3 linked regions of the Homo sapiens genome follow. The protein of the gene in region 3 purifies or fractionates together with the protein of the main gene of each other region. This does not show direct contact. Each region holds a gene or a part of one and is shown on either strand. Other genes may lie near its edges.

The links. Proteins that work in one complex are often made in the same cells at the same time.
Region 1: the proteins of RBM43 (region 3) and ARHGAP8 purify together in Homo sapiens (affinity purification with mass spectrometry; one large-scale study listed by BioGRID and IntAct). This does not show direct contact.
Region 2: the proteins of RBM43 (region 3) and PARP9 purify together in Homo sapiens (affinity purification with mass spectrometry; one large-scale study listed by BioGRID and IntAct). This does not show direct contact.

Annotation. Positions count from the first base shown.
Region 1 is NC_000022.11:44,759,075-44,762,574, forward strand, and holds part of ARHGAP8 (rho GTPase-activating protein 8), read left to right. Parts: intron 1-3,500.
Region 2 is NC_000003.12:122,547,301-122,550,800, forward strand, and holds part of PARP9 (protein mono-ADP-ribosyltransferase PARP9), read right to left. Parts: coding exon 3,284-3,500; intron 1-3,283.
Region 3 is NC_000002.12:151,246,556-151,250,604, forward strand, and holds the end of RBM43 (RNA-binding protein 43), read right to left. Parts: 3' UTR 1,385-4,049; downstream 1-1,384.

The DNA.
Region 1 (3,500 bases), on a different chromosome or scaffold from region 3:
GGTGGATGGTGGGGTGACCCTGGAGTGTGGGTGGAACCAGGCCACGCTGGGCCTTGGATCCCGGGGTCTGTCCCAAGCCCTCTGCTTGTTCTTTTATTCAACAGACCTCCCAAGTCCCTGCTCGTGTCCCCAGCCCCGGGTTGGCTGAGTGCAGAGACTCAGACGTGAGTCAGACATGGCCCTGCTGTCAGGGCACACACAGTGATGGGTCAAGAAGAGCATACAGGTACATGGTGCAGACTGATGAGGGCTGTGATGGACCTGGGGGCTGCCAGAGCCCACAGGAAGCCCCTCTCCCAATCTGGGGTAGGCAGGGCACCTGGAGCATCAGGACGCTTTTGGCTGTAATTAACAGAAAACACAACTCTGAACCGGCCCAAAGTCAAGGGGGGTGCATTAGCCCATGTAGCTGCAAAGGTCTGGGGATAGTATGGAGATCAGGTGTGGCTTGATCAGGGGTTAGCTATTCCCTTCATTCTCTGTGGGCTGCTGGGTCTGCAGAGGGGCGGCAAGTTGGCTGCAGCCCTCCGGGTCTCATCTGCATACCCAGCTGCGCAGAGACTCTCACAGTGGTTCTGTCTTGAGAAACAGGATCTTCTGTCTCAGAAGTATCCTGGAGCCTCAGGGGCCTGAAGGGAGATGGTCAGGGAGATTGTCAGGGAGATTGCCTCGTGCTGATTAGCTCTGGCTTGGGTTTCTGAATTAACCTTTGAAAAGGGAGATATGATTACTCTTAGCCTAACTGGGCGGGCCCTGGGAGGCGGGACAGCCTCACCTCTTGCAGCTGGAGGGTGTGCAGGTGAGAGTTGCGCACCCGAATGATCACCTGGGTGCCCTTGCGCAGGGCAGCAGAGATGCTTGGTGTTCCCTAAAGGCTGTGTGAGGAGCCCTGAGTCTTGACCCACAGGAGAGGGGGTGACCCCAGCAGCCCTTTAGAGACCCCCTTGCCCTTTCAGGGTGCTGAAGGTTTCCTGCGGTTTGTGGGCAGGCCTCTGACAAGGTCCTGATGCAGGTCACAGTCAGCTTGTTTGGACTTCGCTGCCGCCACCTTCGGGGGTCTCATGTATCTGCTACCTGGACAAATGGCCTTGCGCATGCCGTCTTGCCAGCGTTGGGGACCCAGTGGTGGTTGTGATGAAGACTGGGTAGTGAGGGTCTGTATTAACGAATTCATGCATAGCTGAGACAAAAGAGTGGAAGTTACTTTTTATGGGATGCCACTGGGGGACCCTGGAATCCCAGCTCAGTAGTGACCCCCATTCAGCCATGAGCAAGATCTCCTGCCCCCATCATTCCTGGACTTTCCCAGGAGTCGCTGGCCAGTGTCTGCCTCAGGTATGACTGTGTGCAAGCTTCTTTGTCTCTGGGTCTTGGAAGCTTAGGCCTGGGTGGCATCAAACTCATTGCCTCCTTCTCCCAAGAGCCCTTTATCAGAACACCCAGTTCCAAAACGAGAGCCTGCATTGTGCAAATACCACAGCGAGCTCTTCCTCTGTATGCCCTGCACATCGGACTTGCCACTCAAATTAAGTTTGGTGCTAATTTGCCCGAGGTAAGTAGGTGTTAATTTGTAGCTACAGCATTAAGATAATTGCTGTGAGGGTCTATTTGTGTAATGTGCAAATATATTTTTACAGCAACAAACCATTTTGCTATGAATTATAAATAGAACAGTTGGGTGATTTGAATTTTCCTTTGCATAACATCCACTCTGCCAGCATGCCTGTTCGGGTCCATGTCTAATGAGGGGCTGCAGCTGGCCCAGCCCCACAGATGCTGATGGTGCCTCTGTGTCCTTGTCCCCGACCCTGGGGGGGATCCGAGAGAAAGGGCTTGTCAGGGAGGGTCGGGAGGGAGTTGAGGCATGTGCGGACTCACATGCAGGGCGAGGCAGGCTTTGGGGGATGGAGCTTCTGCTCTGAAGCCCACTGGCCAGGAGAAAGGGCCCACTTGTAATGTCTGGTTTATTTTCACTTCATTTTGATGATTACGAAGGACCTGCATGTACCAGGCCCTGTACTAGGCACCACGGATACTGTTTGAGCAAATCCAGGCATGGGCTTGGTCCTCGTGAAACTTTGATCTGCTAAGGGAGGCCCATGTTAACATTAGCAAAAGGATCACGGAAATAAGTGCCATCAGCCCTCCGTATTGGTGGCCTCTGTATTCGTGGGCTCTGCATCCGTGGCCTCTGTAACCGTGGACTCTGTATCCATGGGCTCCATATTATGGGTTCCTCATCTGTGGATTCAACCAACCGCGGATTTAGTGTATTGGGAAAAGAAAATAAATGGTTGTGTGTACTGAATTTATACAGACTTTTCTCCTTATTCCCTAAACAACACAATGTAAGAACTATTTACAGGCATTTACATTGTGTTAAGTGTTACAGGTAATCTAGAGATGATTTAAAGCATACAGAAGGATATGCATAAGTTATATGCAAATACTACACCATATTTCAGCAGGGGCTTGAGCATCTGTGGATTTTGGTATCTGCCAGGAGTCCTGGAATGAATTCCCCAAGGGACGTCTGTAAACTTGCACCTGGTTGAGAGCTATGAGTAATGGATACAGGGAGCTAAGAGTATATGGAGAGGGGCCTGCCATGCTCCTGTTTGGAAAGAGAGAATATGTTAGTCAATTTTTACGCTGCTGATAAAGACACACCCGAGACTGGGTAATTTATAAAGGAAAGAGGTTTAATTGACTTACAGTTCCATGTGGCTGGGGAGGCTTCACAATCATGGTGGAAGTGAAGGAAGAGCAAAGGAACATCTTACATGGTGGCCAGCAAAGACAGAGTGAGAACCAAGCAAAAGGGGTTTCCCCTTATAAAACCATCAGATCTCATGAGACTTATTCACTACCATGAGAACAGTGTGGGGGAACCCCCCCCAACTCATAATTCAGTTACCTCCCACCAGGTCCCTCCCATAATGTGAGAATTATGGGAGCTACAATTCAAGATGAGATTTGGGTGGGAACACAGCCAAACCATATCAGAGAATTGTCTTAACAGAGATCAGAAGGACAGACAGGAGCTGACCTGCAGGTGGGGGCTGTGGTATAATGAATCTTAGCTGAGCACAGTGGTTTGTGCCTGTGATCCCAGTGAGCCGGAAGGCTGAGATGGGAGGATCACTTGAGGCCAGGAGTTTGAGACCAGTTTGGGCAATATAGTGAGACCCAGTCTCTACAAAATACATGAAAAAGCCAGGTACAGTGGTGTGCACCTGTAGTCTCAGCTACTCGGGAGGCTGAGGTGGGAGGATCGCTTGAGCCCAGGAGTTCAAGGCTGTAGTGAGCTATGATCATACCACTGTACTCCAACCTGGGCAACAGCATGAGACCCCATCTCTAAAACAAAAAAAAATCTTTGTTAGGTCTTTGTCCCTGGTTCCTGGCAGAGCTCCTAAAACCCTTGGAAGAGCATCTTTTGTTACTCATTATGAACTCTCTCTCTCTCTTTTTTTTTTTTTTTTTTGAGATGGAGTCTC
Region 2 (3,500 bases), on a different chromosome or scaffold from region 3:
GCCAGACTGGTCTCGAATTCCTGACCTCAGGTGATCCGCCCAGCTCAGCCTCCCAAAGGGCTGGGATTACAGGCATGAGCCACCAAGCCCGGCCCCCTACGGCACTATTTTTATTATTAGTCCCTGGGGGAGCGCTCAGACCGTGGTTGATCTTTCCATTTTTCTTAAACTGTCATGCATATTTTTGTTTGTATGTTGGAGAGAATGAACCTTCTTTTCTAGATGTGGTTAATTCCTCTTGTATGAAAATGGTGCTTCATAAAGTTCAGGGGCTGGGCACGGTGGCTCACGTCTGTAATCCCAGAATTTTGGGAGGCTGAGGTGGGAGGATTACTTGAGTCCAGGAGTTTGAGATTGGCCTGGGCAACATAGTGAGACCCCACTTCCACAAAAAATAAAAGTATTAGCCAGGCATGGTGGCGCATGCCTGTAGGTCTAACTACTCAGGAGGCTGAGATGGGAGGATTGCTTGAGCCTGGGAGGCTGAGGCTTCAGGGAGTTATGATCACACCACTGCACTCCAGCCGAGGCAGCAGAGCGACATCCTGTCTCAAAAAAAAGGAAATTAAAAAAAGAAATAGTTCAGGGAGGTGATCAGGGCACCTATCTGGGCTTAGAGATAATCCTCTGCATGGGAAACTGATGAACTTCATCTGAAGGACAGGATTATTCATTTTATCAGAAGGTGAGCTACTTCCTTGGGTCATGCACCACCATCTCACCAGTTAGCTGTGGGTGAGGCGCAGTGGGATACTGGAGCTGGCATACAATGACTCAAGACAGCTTGCTGTGACCATCTCTTCTAAATCTGTTTTCAGTGATGTCATATCAACAGCTTGAAAGCAGCCACAGAAATCAGCAAATGCTACAAATCTCCCCGTGTTTAATTGGGCAGCAGAAGGAATAAGAACTTTTATACTTGCTCCAAGAAAGAGCAAGCTGGAACAAGTATAAATTCACTTCCATATAGGCAGAGATAAAATGGCAACCATGCACATAGAGCAGGCCAAGAGGTGGGAATATGAGCAGTCAGAGAACTAATGTTTGCAGCCACTCTCTGCAAGGCAAACCTTGCAAGGCCCTCTATATCCAAAATCCAGACACATGCCGAGAAGTCTCTCTAAAACTCGGATGTTGCTGTTGGCAGAATCAGAAACCTATATCTTGAAAACCTATTTTAGGTTGCTGTATCTTATTTCCTTTCCTTTTTATTCTTCCCTAACATCATTAAAGTCTTTCTCGAAAATGCCAGCTAAGTGAGAATAAAGCAGAGATGGTCGGTACTTTAAAGGCAGAACAGCACTGCAATATATACTAATTATGCTGAAAATATCACAGTTTATTCACATGCTAGGAACTCAGCTTGATCTGTCCACCCAAACAAAAAGCTGAGATGAAGTGCACTCAGACACATAAGACAAGCTCCCCTCCAACACATGGACCCCAAATGTGTTAGACCACAGCTGATTTCCTTCCGAGGTCACCTACAGATGAGCTAAAAAAGAATGGGTTGAATTTGAGGGCAGTACTGGAGACATGGCAAAACTAGCCAGGCATACCACTGCTGTTAAAGAAATTGGAAAGAAAAGATAAACAATTCACTGAATTTAGTAACAATTCAGCACTCAGTGAACTACAGCTCATTACAGTTGATGTAACAGCTAACCTTCTACTCTGTGCTAGGTACTATTCTAAGTGTTTTACAGGTATTAACTCATTTTTTTTTTTTTTGAGATGGAGTTTCACTCTTGTTGCCCAAGCCCGGGTGCAATGGTGCGATCTCAGCTCACTCCAACCTCCGCCTCCTGGGTTCAAGCAATTCTCCTGCCTCAGCCTCCCGAGTAGCTGGGATTACAGGTGTGTGCCACCACGCCTGGCTAATTTTTTGTATTTTTAGTAGAAACGGGATTTCATCATGTTAGCTACACTGGTCTCAAACTCGTGACCTCAGATGATCCGCCTGCCTCAGCCTCCCAAAGTGCTGGGATTACAGGCGTGAGCCACCTCACCCACCTGTATTAACTCATTTCATCTTCACAACAGCTCCATAAGATGGTAATCAGTATCCCTCTTTTAAGGATGAGGAAACTGAGGCACAGATAAGTAAACTAACTTGCCCAAGGTTATATAGCCAGCGAGAGGCAAAGCTGAGACTGATGGGGATTTTAGAGGGAAAACTGATTGAGGAGGAGAAGACAGGCCAGGCATATTGGCTCACACCTATTATCCCAGAGCTTTGGGAGGCTGAGATGGGAAGATCACTTGAGCCCAGGAGCTCAAGACCAGATTGGGCAACATAGTAAGACTGCTTTTCTACAAAAAATTTAAAAATTAGCCAGGCATGGTAGCATGTGCCTGTAGTGCCTGCTACTCAAGAGGCTGGAGTGGGAGGATCACTTGAGCCCAGGAGTTCAAGACTGCAGTGAGCTATGATTGTGCCACTGCACTCCAGCCTGAGCAACAGAGCAAGATCACATCTGTTTAAAAAAAAAAAGAGAGAGAGAGAGAAGACAAAGAATTTGCCTTAAATACACTGGATTTGAGATGACGGTCAGAGATCCAAGTGGAAATGAGAGAGGATTGGCTAAGAAGACAGGACTTCACAGAAGTTGTAAGAACAGTTGTGTTCTTGAAGGGAGAGAGATGAGAGAGGGGCAAGGACCCCACACTGAAACTAGAAGGTTGCTTACCTTTAAGGAGCAGAGGGAAGAATAAGTGCCATTAAAAGAAAAGACAGAAGCTAGGTAGTGGGTAAACATGGCTTCTTTGTTTTTTGTTTTGTTTTGTTTTGTTTTTGAGATGGAGTTTCACTCTTGTTGCTCAGGCTGGAGTACAATGGCGTGATCTCGGCTCACCACAATCTCCGCCTCCCAGGTTCAAGCTATTCTCTTGCCTCAGCCTCCCTAGTAGCTGGGATTAAAGGCATGTGCCACCACGCCCAGCTAATTTTGTATTTTTAGTAGAGACAGGGTTTCTCCATGTTGGTCAGGTTGGTCTAGAACTCCCGACCTCAGGTGATCCGCCTGCCTCCGCCTCCCAGAGTGCTGGGATTACAGGTGTGAGCCACCGTGTCTTGCCAAACATGGCTTCTATAATGACATGTTTTACTAGGTCAGAGGTGGACAATCTGTAAAAATTAAACTTCACCAAGTTAGAACACCACCACACTGTACAGCACCTAGCCCTGCATCCCCTGCATCTTACATTGTAGATACTAAACAGATGTTGCTGAATGAATGAATGAATGAATGAACAGTAGGACATTTCTAAGATATTAACTTACCTTATATATCTCCAAATCTGTTGGAAAGATCACAAATTTTACAGTTAACTGGTGTTTTACATGGTCTTTGGCAAATGTTAAAACTTCATCAAACAAAATCTCTGCTGCTGTTTCCTTCTTTATTTCCATGTTTCCAGTCCCAAGGGCAGGAAAGGAAATGGAAGTTATATTTTGCTCAATGCATTTTTCCAAACACTCCTTCATTGCATGTTTTAAT
Region 3 (4,049 bases):
AGGTTTTTGGGGGTATGTGCTATGAAAAAGTATCCACCTGTAACTGTTGCACCTTGAGTTCTTGCTGTTTCAAAAAGTTCCAGGAAGATGGGAGGCCAAGGTGGGTGGATCACCTGAGGTCAGGAGTTCGAGACCTGCCTGGCCAGCATGGTGAAACCCCCCTCTACTAAAAGTACAACAATTAGCCAGGCATGGTGGTGCATGCCTGTAATCCCAGCTACTAGGGAGACTGAGGTAGGAGAATCGCTGGAACCCGGGAGGCAGAGGTTGCAGTGAGCCAAGATCGCGCCATTGTACTCCAGCCTGGGTGACAGAGTGAGACCCCGTCTCAAAAAAAAAAAAAAAAATGTATTAGCCTGGTGTGGTGGCAGGTGCCTGTAATCCCAGCTACTTGGGAGGCTGAGGCAGGAGAATTACTTGAACCCAAGAGGCAGAGGTTGCAGTGAGCTGGAACTGCACCATTGCACTCTAGCCTGGGCAATAAGAGCAAAACTCGGTCTCAAAAAATAAAAATAAAAAATAAAATTTTTAACAACCAATTATTTTATCTTAGGATAAAAATTTACCATATAATTTTTAATACATCAATTGTATTTTCCTAAATTTATATTTTGATTAATAGACCGAAATACTTTTAGTCCTTTTATAAAACCTAAGAAGCCAAGAACAAATGTCTATGTATTTAGCAATTTTTTTTTAATTTGGATATGATCCAGACATTTAATGAGTATCATTTAACATAATTTTAAGATTTTAAAATTACATGAAAAGCTCATTTATAAATGTTTATTTCATTTATAAGATTTATTTCTCAATTATTCCTAGATTTATGAAAATTGAGATAGAACTAGTCATTGTTTTTATTAATCAGTTTTATAGACTGTTACCATGAAGTATTTATCTTGATATTAAGGTTTAAGTAAGAACCTTAAAGTTAAAAACAGCCACCCTGTTGCTAACTCAGAAAAGTTACAGCTATTTTTATTAAAACAACAATATAATCATATTTATTTAAAAACTATATAAACAAAGATCATTTTGTTTTAGGCTTTATGACTTTAAAACATCTAGCAGAGGCAAATATAAAACTGTCTGACCAGTAAACCCAGACAAAAATGTCTGCTGACAATTTTGAAGACATTTCTAATTTTATTTTATCCACAATTTTAAAACCAATTAATTTATCAAAGATTTACTTAAGTCACATCAACTAAAAAAAACTGGGGGTTAATTACTATACATTTTATATGAGTGCTCATTTATTTAAACCAATCAGAATAAAATTTGTTAAGGGATTTCTGGCTGACTACACCAGCTTTTATGTAGATACAACATTCAACATAATATATGTACATACACATAAACACATTTAAACACATATACATAAAGATATTAAAACTTTTATTTTAGAATTTTAGTCATGATATAGTAAAACACGTAAATTCACCAGTTTATAAAAATGATTAGATGCAAATTATTTTTCTGACAAAATGGGCTAAGGATAAGCTTTAAGCTTTTTTAATAGGCAATCTTATAAAGGCTGTAAATCAAATTTGGGATAAAGCAGTTTGAGTCACTCACCAGTGCACTAAATTGAACAAAAAATAGTTAACTGTGAAAGTGTGCTGAATTATGTGAGTAGGACCAAAAGACAAGAGTGATTTTTAACAAGGTTTATACAGTATTTTCTTGGACTCAATTCTTTGTCATTGAAGATAAAAATGCTGCTATTCTTTTTTGTATAGGGAGGAAGGTTTTACATGGGAATTTAATCTTTGCTTTAAAAAAAAAACAGTAGGAAGGTCAAAATGACTTTGTTTTATATCTGCTGGTTTTCAAGTGTTTTTATTTAAGTAGTATGTTAGAATAGCTGTTTAGAGAAGGATAAAGAGGGGATACTGTAAGAAGGGGAGGGGAAAGGTCTAGAAAAGAAAGTTTCAGCCACCTTTGAGACAGTATTTTTTAACAAGGCAATATTTGTATCCTGAATGTGTTTTGTTTTTGTTTTTATTTTTTTTTAGCCTCAAGATATCAATGAAATATGCATATCTTATTTGGAGTGTATGATTTTATAGCCTCCATCTTTTAGTTCAGTTTTAAGAAAAACAGACTAAATGATCCCTGTAATGTTTGAATATGTTACTAGCTGGAGTTCCAGAAAATATTCTGGCATGCCTTTGAACTTTGAGAGCTCATTTCGTGGGTGCTCTGATTTAATGTCAACTATGCAAAAGCCAAGTAAATGCAAGCACTGAATACACAAAGGCCAAATAAATACAAGACAGGACAGAAAATAAAATACATGCTTACCAGTAAGAATGATAAGCCTTCTCCAAAGAAAGGGAAAAATTCCCTCATCCAAGCCTCAAGGTCCAAACCTCGCAGCTGAGGTCAACAGGGGGAAAATAATTCTACCCAACAGATCTACCAAACAAGAGGGGGAAAGACCTCTCCCTAATCATATCCCAAATAAAACAGAACTCGAACCATATCTGAGAGTTCTGTCCAAGAGATACTTACTGGAGGGAGAAAGGATTACCTGTGAAAGTGGTGGGGGTGTAGGGGGTTCAAAGGGCCCCAACATGGGTACCTCATGCCATAACTCCAAAGGCCAATGATTCTCCATGAGGTGAGTCAGCTTTGTATCCCACTTCTGACACCATGCATGTCAAAGTCAAAATGAAAATGTAGACACAAAACTAAATTTAATGTTTTGAGAAGAAAGAATTTCAATTCTAGGTGATCTTTAGTATGTCCAACAAACAAAGAGAAGGTTGAGGGTTTTATTTAAAACTAAGAATGTTACTTGTGGTCTTTCTTTTTTTTTTTTTTTTTTTTTTGAGACGGAGTCTCGCTCTGTCACCCAGGCTGGAGTGCAGTAGTGCAGTCTTGGCTCACTGCAAGCTCCACCTCCCGGGTTCACGCCATTCTCCTGCCTCAGCCTCTAGCCTCCCGAGTAGGTGGGACTACAGGCGCCCACCACCATGCCCGGCTAATTTTTGTATTTTTAGTAGAGATGGGGTTTTACCATGTTAGCCAGGATGGTCTCAATCTCCTGACCTTGTGATCCACCCGCCTCGGCCTCCCAAAGTGCTGGGATTACAGGTATGAGTCACCACGCCCGGCCAACTTGTGATCTTAAGAGAAAGTTCATTGGTATTAGTAAAGCCCTGGGGAGCTGGCAAGCTCCAACTGGTGGGCAATGGCCATAGGTAAAATTAGTCCTAGAGTTACAGCAAGTTATCTCAGCAGCTATAGACAAAACTGGTCTCAGGTTACAGCAAGCAGTTTCAGTAGCCAGGCTCACAGAGAATTACATTCTTGGAGCAATATTATGTGTCCCAAGTACTTTTTCCCCCTAGCTTCTTGAGTCTGTTTTAGTTGGATGTGACAAGAATGACTCAATTAATATTATCAACTTGCACAATTATAAAAGAATCACCATTTTATGTAAGCACTTAGGCTAAAAAAATAGTAAAAACATCCTATGTGGCCAGCAGCCTTGAAACAATAGAATTTAGTCAAATAATGATTACCTGCATAAGATATGCTTTCCATCTAAGTAGTTTCCCCAGTGATTTTTGCCAGTATTCTAATTCTACACGGAGTAAACACAAACTGTAAATGTTAAGAAATTGCCCATGGCATAATAATCACCTTTCAAATTTCTCATATGTTAAGGCTACTTCTTAATAATTATTATTCTCTAATAATTTGGAGTTACAGAGAAAGTAAGATTCCTTCAAAGTTTGGTGAGTTTGCTGGGCGCAGTGGCTCACGCCTGTAATCCCAGCACTTTGGGAGGCCGAGGCGGGTGGATCACAAGGTCAGGAGATGGAGACCATCCTGACTAACACGGTGAAACCCCATCTCTACTAAAAAAATACAAAAAGATTAGCCGGGCGTGGTGGTGGGCACCTGTAGTCCCAGCTACTCCAGAGGTTGAGGCAGGAGAATGGTGTGAACCCAGGAGGTGGACGTTGCAGTGAGCCGAGATCACGCCACTGCACTCCAGCCTGGACAACAGAGCGAGACTCCATCTCAAAAAA